Homo sapiens: one gene and its partner. The protein of the gene in region 1 purifies or fractionates together with the protein of each later gene. This does not show direct contact. Each region holds a gene or a part of one and is shown in the gene's direction. Other genes may lie near its edges.

Region 1 (4,796 bases):
ATCACTTGAGCCCAGGAGTTTGAGACCAGCCTGGGCAACATAGTGAGACCTCATCTCTACAGAAAACTAAAAAATTAACCAGGCATGGTGATGCACTCCTATAATCACAGCTACTCGGGAGGTTGAGGTGGGAGGATCACTTAAGCCCAGGAGGTTGAGGTTGCAGTGAACCGTGATTGTGCCACTGCATTCCAGCCTGGGTGACAATGAGACCCTGCCTCAAAAAAAAAGTGGTATTTCATTGTGCATTTGATTTGCATTTCCTGATGGCTAATGGTGGTGAGCGCCTTCTCATGTCTAGTAACCATTTGTATATCCTCGTGAGCAAAGCATCTATTCAAATCCTTTGCCCATTTTAAAAATTGGGTTGTCATCTTGTTGAGTTGCAGAAGTTCTTTATATGTTCTGAATCCTAGATATTGATCACTTCTTTAGTTTACAAATATTTTTTCCTGTGGGTTGTCATTATTTTCTTGTTAGTGTCCTTTGATGCATGAAAGTTTTTAAATTTGATGAAGTCCATCTATTTTGTTGCTTATGCTTTTGATGTTAGATTTAAGAAGCCATTGACTAATTCAAGGCCATGAAAATTTACACCTACATTTCCTTCTAAGAAATGTATAGTTTTAGTGCTTCTTACCTTTAAGTCTTTGATCCATTTTGACTTAAATTTGTGTATGGTGTAAGGGAGCAGGTCCCATGTCATACCTGTGAGTAGCCAGTTGTCCCAGACCATTTTGCTTTGTTGTTGAGACAGGGTCTCGCTCTGTTGCCAAGACTGGAGTGCAGGGGTGTGATCATGGCTCACTGCAGCCTCGACCTCTTGGGCTCAAGCAATCCTCCTGGCTCAGCCTCCAGAGTAGCTGGGACTACAAGCATGTGCCACCATGCCTGGCTAATTTTTTTTTTTGAGACAGAGTCTCGCTGTGTCGCCCAGGCTGGTGTGCGGTGGCGTGATCTCGGCTCACTGCAAGCTCCGCCTCCCGGGTTCACGCCATTCTCCTGCCTCAGCCTCCTGAGTAGCTGGGACTACAGGCGCCCGCCACCACGCCCAGCTAATTTTTTTTTTTTTTTCAGTAGAGACGGGGTTTCACCGTGTTAGCCAGGATGGTCTCGATCTCCTGACCTCGTGATCCACCTGCCTCAGCCTCCCAAAGTGCTGGGATTACAGGCGTGAGCCATTGTGTCCGGCCTAGTTTTTCAAGATTTTTTTGTAAAGACAGGGTCTCACCATGTTACCCAGGCTGGTCTCCAACTCCTGGGCTCAAGCTTTCCTCCCACCTCGGCCTCCCCAAGTGCTGAGATTACAGGCGCGAGCCACTGCACCTGGCCCATTTCCACTTCCTCCTTTCCACTCTGAACGCCTTTTATTTCTTTTTCTTGCCTCATTGCTCTGGCTGGAACGTCTAGCACTTTGTTGAACGTGGTGGTGAGAGCACACGTCCTCGTCTCATTCCTGATCGAACGCGGTGGTGAGAGCACACGTCCTCGTCTCGTTCCTGATCGAACGCGGTGGTGAGAGCACACATCCTCGTCTCGTTCCTGATCGAACGCGGTGGTGAGAGCACACGTCCTCGTCTCGTTCCTGATCGAACGTGGTGGTGAGAGCACACGTCCTTGTCTTGTTCCTGATCTTAAGGGAACGTTTGCAGTCTTTCACCACTAGATGTGATGTGAGCTGTTAGATTTTCAAGGATGCTCTTCATCCAGCTGAAGACGGTCCCTTCTAGTCCTAATTTGTTAAGTGTTTTTATCCTTAAAGGGTACTGGATTTTGTCAAATGCTTTTCTGGCCTCTATTGAAAAGATCCTGTGTTCTTCTGTGAATATGAGGTGTTACATTGATTGATTTTCATATGTTGAGCCAGTTTCCATTTGTGGAATACATCTAACTCGGTCATGGTGTATAATCCATTTACTCTGCTGCTGAATGTGATTTGCTTGTATTTTGGTGCGGATTTTTACATCTGTATTTATAAGGGATATTGGTCTGGTGTTTTCTTATGATGTCTTCCTTTGGTTTTGATATCAGGATAATATTAGCCTCATAGATTGGGTTAGGAAATGTTCTCTCCTCCGTTTTTTTTGGAAGAGAGAGATTGGTGTTAATTCTTGCTAGAACCTTTGGTAGAATTTGCCAGTAAGCCTATCTGGTCTTGGGTCTTTGGGAGGATTTTGATTCGATTCAATCTATGTATTTGTTATAGATCGTTCGGATTGTCCATCCTTGAGTCAGTTGCTAGCTTGTGTGTTTCTTGGAGTTTTTCCGTTTCGTCCATGTTATCTCATCTGTTGGCATACCGTCGTTCACGGGATTTTATTGATGTGTGTGAGGTCTCTGAGAACGTCCCTGCCTTCACTCCTGCTTTTAGTCACTGGCATCTTCTTTTAACTTGGGCCATCTGGCCGTGCATGGTTTTGGGAGAGTCCTCCTTGACTCTGCAGATGCTGAGCAGTGATCTGGCTGGGAAAGGGGACCAGGAGTGCAGGGCACCTGCTGAGGACTCACCTAAGCCCAAGAGTCAGAGAGTCGGAGCTCCAACCACATCTGCCTGCATGCCTTTCCCAGGCTCTCCCCAGGCGGACAGCCAGCACCCCCTCCCCAAAGACCGGGCAGTTCCTGACCAGCACCCCACCAAGTCCTCAGTAAGGCCTGTCTTTGGGGGAGCAGGGTTTCAGGAGGACAGTGGGGGTGGTGTAGAACTCATGGCTGGCGGTTCCGGGCCTCTCAGGAAGCTTTGCCACTGGGCTTGGGGTTAAGTGGGTGTGGGGCTCCGAACCCTAAATGGGTGAGAGTTGAAATGAAAGCGGCACCTGTAGTCCGTTTGGGGTGCAGGTGTGTGCCAGGGGTCTTCAGCCCCGGCTGATGGCCACATGAACCACATGAGGAGAGGCAGGGCGTGTCAGCAGCAAACCTAAGTGTGTGCTCATTTCTGTGGGCCCTTACTCTGTGACACTGCAGCTCTCCAGAGAGACGCTTTGAAAACAAAACAGGAAAGAACACACGGCCCCGCGTCTGTTGCCTGAGTCACTGTATTCCTTAAAAGGTGAAGGACCCTGGTCCTTGGCTTTTCGTGCACATGAGAAAATGTTGGCCAAGGTTAGCGATTATGCTTCTGTAATCTGTAACCAGAAGTGCTCTTATGCCCAAACCTTGATGTGATTCTGCTGTAATGTAACTTCGGAGCCAGCTGGATGGATGTGACTGTGCAGGTCCTGAGCCCCGGCCCCCGTAACCAAGCAGTGGGCCGAGACACTGAGCCGGGCAGTCAAACAGGAGCTCTCTAAGGCTGCTCCCGGGCTGGGACCTGGGTCTAGGATTCTCAGTAAGACCTTTGAATAAAACTAACTTGAATTCTTCAAAAGCTTGATTTTTTTTCTTCAGTCAAAAGCATCTTGCAGAGATGCCAGCCCACCGTGGGGATGTGCAGTGGCAGCCCTGAGCTGGCCCAGCCCCTTTCCCCAAGGCTGCTCTGGGGAGGGGGGCGGGTTTGGGGGAGTAGAGTGCAGGGGATTGAAGCAGGGGAAACAGGGTGTGAGGGTCAAGGGGGGCTAGAATTGGGGGAGCAGGTTCACGGGCCAGGGGCTGGGCAGGGGTGGGCCTGGGCACCTGGTAGGTGGGGGAGCCCCAACTTCCCATCCCTGCGTCACACGCCCTTCCCCTGCAGGGTGGGGGTCTGCAGGGTTGGCATGTGCCCCCCTGCCCTGTCCCCACCCTACTCCCCGGCGGCAGGCAGAGGGGCGTGCAGGGGGGCCCTAAGTGCAGTGACGTCTCGACTCTGACTCCGACCCACAGAACTTTAAAAATAGGGCCGTGGTAAAGTCCGTCTCTACAGACCACAGCCTGCCCAGAGCTAAGAATATTCTTGAACCACTTAATAATTCAAGTCAGATCCAAATAGATTTTCCTGCTCACTTGCGGGCCTCTGTGTCCCTTTCCCAGGCCCCCACCCTGCCTGGAGGCTGGGAGGGAAAGACTCCAAGAAGCAGGTGGGCCTGGCCTTTGGAGCCTCTGAGACCCCAGCTGTCCTGCGTCCCCTCTCCTGTGGCACTCAGGATCAGAAGACACACCAGGGCTGGAGTGGTCCTTTAGGATCTGGCCAAGGTCAGGCCCCAGGGAGGGGCCCCTCTGGTGGTCCTAGCTGTCCCAAGCCCCACCCCTGCTCTGGCCACAGGCATTGGACTATTTGAATCTGGGTCTGAGCTGGGCCTTGGCCCCTTGCACAGCATCTGACCTGAGCCACGCACCTCTCATGGGGGCCCCGTCCTCCAGGGCCAAGGGCAGCATGAGCTCCAGGAGAGCCAGCCTCGCCCCTCACACCCTGGTAGCTGGTACACGCCCACCCCAGGGCCTGTGTCCTGCCTCCTCTGCGGAAGAGTCCCTGAAGGGCCTGGCCTGGGGCTCCTTGTCCTGGTGGAAGTGGCTGTGCACAGGCAACCAGGGCCCTGGGTTCCAGACCAAGGCCTCTGTACTTGTGTGCTGTGTGTGCTTGGGTAAGCCACCTCGCCTCTCTGAGCCTCTTATCAGTGGGACCGATGCTTTTAGAATAAGCTGTGGTGTTTGGGGCAGGAAGGGGTATCTGACGGGTGCCCTGAGGCCTGAGTCACCCTCTCCTCCAGGGGCAGTGCCCAAGCTGCAGACACCCCTCACCCATCCCTGTCTCCCCCCAGGCTCTGGTCTTTCAAACAGGAACTCAGGGTGAAGGGGTGCCACCTGGGAATGTTTGGGGGAGCCCACACTTGCTGGCGGGGAAGTGCTCACCAGCCTGGCCCCCCAACCCCGGCAGCAGCCCAGCC
Region 2 (3,387 bases), on another chromosome or scaffold:
TGAAACGGTGTCTTGCTCTGTCGCCCAGGCTGGAGTGCAGTGGTACATTCTCAGCTCACTACAACCTGCGCCTCCCACACCCAAGCGACTCTCCTGTCCCAGCCCTCCGAGCAGCTGAGATCACAGGCGCATGTCACCATACCCAGCTAATTTTTTGTATTTTTAGTAGAGACAGGGTTCCACCATGCCGGCCAGGCCGGTCTCGAACTCCCGACCTTGTGATCTGCCAGCCTCGGCCTCCCAAAGTGCTGGGACCACAGACGTGAGCCACCGCGCCCGGCCTGTTTCTTTTTTTTTTTTTTTTTTTTTTTTAGTATTTATTGATCATTCTTGGGTGTTTCTCGGAGAGGGGGATTTGGCAGGGTCATAGGACAATAGTGGAGGGAAGGTCAGCAGATAAACATGTGAACAAGGGTCTCTGGTTTTCCTAGACAGAGGACCCTGCGGCCTTCCTCAGTGTTTGTGTCCCTGGGTACTTGAGATTAGGGAGTGGTGATGACTCTTAAGGAGCATGCTGCCTTCAAGCATCTGTTTAACAAAGCACATCTTGCACCGCCCTTAATCCATTTAACCCTGGGTGGACACAGCACATGTTTCAGAGATCATGGGGTTGGGGGTAAGGTTATAGATTAACAGCATCCCAAGGCAGAAGAATTTTTCTTAATACAGAACAAAATGGAGTCTCCCATGTCTACTTCTTTCTACACCAACACAGTAACAATCTGATCTCTTTTCCCCACATTTCCCCCTTTTCTATTCGACAAAGCCGCCATCGTCATCATGGCCCATTCTCAATGAGCTGTTGGGTACACCTCCCAGACGGGGTGGCAGCCTGGCAGAGGGGCTCCTCACTTCCCAGACGGGGCAGCCGGGCAGAGGCGCCCCCCACCTCCCTCCCAGACGGGGCGGCTGGCGGGGCGGGGGCTGACCCCCCACCTCCCTCCCGGACGGGGCGGCTGCCAGGCGGAGGGGCTCCTCACTTCGCAGACGGGCAGCTGCCGGGCGGAGGGGCTCCTCACTGCTCAGACGGGGCAGCCGATCAGAGACACTCCTCACCTCCCAGATGGGGTGGTGGTCGGGCAGAGACACTCCTCAATTCCCAGACGGGGTCGCCACCGGGCAGAGGCATTCCTCACATCCCAGACTGGGCGGCCGGTCAGAGGGGCTCCTCACATCTCAGACGATGGGCGGCCGGGCAGAGACACTCCTCACTTCCTAGACAGGATGGCGGCCGGGAAGAGGCGCCCCTCACTTCCCAGACTGGGCGGCCAGTCGGAGGGGCTCCTCACATCCCAGACGATGGGCGGCCAGGCAGAGACGCTCCTCACTTCCCAGACGGGGTGGCGGCCGGGTAGAGGCTGCAATCTCGGCACTTTGGGAGGCCAAGGCAGGCGGCTGGGAGGTGGAGGTTGCAGCGAGCCGAGATCACGCCACTGCACTCCAGCCTGGGCAATGTTGAGCACTGAGTGAGCGAGACTCCGTCTGCAATCCCGGCACCTCGGGAGGCGGAGGCAGGTAGATCACTCGCAGTCAGGAGCTGGAGACCAGCCCGGCCAACACGGCGAAACCCCGTCTCCACCAAAAAATGCAAAAACCAGTCAGGTGTGGCGGCGGGCACCTGCAATCCCAGGCACTCTGCAGGCTGAGGCAGGAGAATCAGGCAGGGAGGTTGCAGTGAGCCGAGATGGCGGCAGTACAGTCCAGCCTCGGCTTTGACAACTTTGGTGGCATCAGAGGGAGACCGGGGAGAGGGAGAGGGAGACGGGAGAGGGAGAGGGAGACGGGAGAGGGAGAGGGAGGAGGGAGAGGGAGACGGGAGAGGGAGACGGGAGAGGGACAGGGTTTTCTAGATATACAATCATATCATTGGTAAGCAGAATGACCGCTTTTAGAGTGCTCCCTGTCCCCAATTTTATGTGTAATTCATTTCACACACTTAAGCCTGCAACAGAAAAATGCACATCACAATTTTAAGTCACTTTCCTCCATCGTTATTGACGTGAGTACAATGTTTTTAGTATTATACCTTTGTTTATTGGAAACTCAACTCATTCCTTATTTTCCTCCTGTGTCATCTGCATCCTCCAATGTGATACCAAGTTTTATATTTTCTTATATTTTCTCACTTTAAGTGGAAGTGCAAGCTTCCACTTAAAACTAAGTGCCCACTGTGATAATTTTGGAATGATATCCTATATCTAATGAAATTCTATGCCAGATAACAAATATCACTGTATACTGTTGTCACTCAAATATGCAAATTAAATAGAACTAACTTAGAATGTACTACTCATGGGTAATAATTGGTATGTATGCATGCTCATGGTCAATAGAAAAATAATCGTATTTGTTAAAAAAGAAGTTTCTCAGCCATGGCTTTTGTGCAACTTCTTTTACCTCCAGACAATGCATGCCCACTCTCAGTTCTGCATGAGTGGGGACCACACGTTAGAAGGGACAGAACATGCCATCAAGGAAATTGTCAAAGAAGAAGCTGATGAGTACTTTGTCATAGTCTTGAGTGATGCAAATCTGTCACGATATGGAATACATCCTGCTAAGTTTGCTCAAATCCTCACAAGAGACCCTCAAGTAAATGCTTTTGCCATTTTTATTGGCTCTTTAGGTGATCAAGCAACCAGGTAAGTGTCATCTGAGCATACAGAAAAGGGCAGGTACAGAGATACTGAGTAGCTAACACATGCTGTTTTATAGGCTTAGCACCATGAGGGACAGTGAGGCAGATGGAGGAAAAACAGAAACTAAAGTTACTAGCCTCAAGGGGTTTATAATCTAGTTGAGGGGATATGTTCTAGCTTTTGTTTAGATGAACAATAATAATTTTAAATTAATTATTTTTTAGTTTATATTTAAGCCACTAATAAATCATTGACAAATTGATTTGTCACTAATAAACCGGGTAGTATTTTATACATTTGGCACTTTATGTCAAGCTCCTAAGCTCAGGCTAATCATTTTGTGTTCAAATCATATTAAAAATCGTGAACATCTACTATTTTCCTAGCATAGGAGATAGTGTGTGTGTATGAATGTCTGTACATATTAGACATATATATACACACATATGTATTATATCCCCATAGAGACATCACCTACATATATGCATGCCTGTATATATATATAGACACACTCACATGTATCCCTTCTTATTGCTGGAGAGACAAGGCAGGTGAAACACTTGGCGACAACATAAGATAATATACATATAGTTAGATACTACACTGAATATACTAAATATTCAATAGAGAATCTTATGATCAGACAATAAATACCAGTGGGTATGATCTGAAAGGAGAGATCTGGAAACACTTTCATAACTTGAACACAATAACATTTATCTTTTTGAATTACAAACAGAAAGAGCTC

Evidence for each region. The genes of interacting proteins can lie anywhere in the genome.
Region 2: the proteins of ENDOV (region 1) and VWA8 purify together in Homo sapiens (affinity purification with mass spectrometry; 3 studies listed by BioGRID and IntAct, with this or other methods). This does not show direct contact.

Annotation. Positions count from the first base shown.
Region 1 is NC_000017.11:80,434,723-80,439,518, forward strand, and holds the end of ENDOV (endonuclease V), read left to right. Parts: intron 1-1,410; coding exon 1,411-1,421; coding exon of another isoform or gene 1,422-1,476; 3' UTR 1,477-3,364; downstream 3,365-4,796.
Region 2 is NC_000013.11:41,569,723-41,573,109, reverse strand, and holds part of VWA8 (von Willebrand factor A domain-containing protein 8 isoform a precursor), read left to right. Parts: intron 1-2,403; coding exon 2,404-2,642; intron 2,643-3,387. UniProt on the Homo sapiens protein: Exhibits ATPase activity in vitro.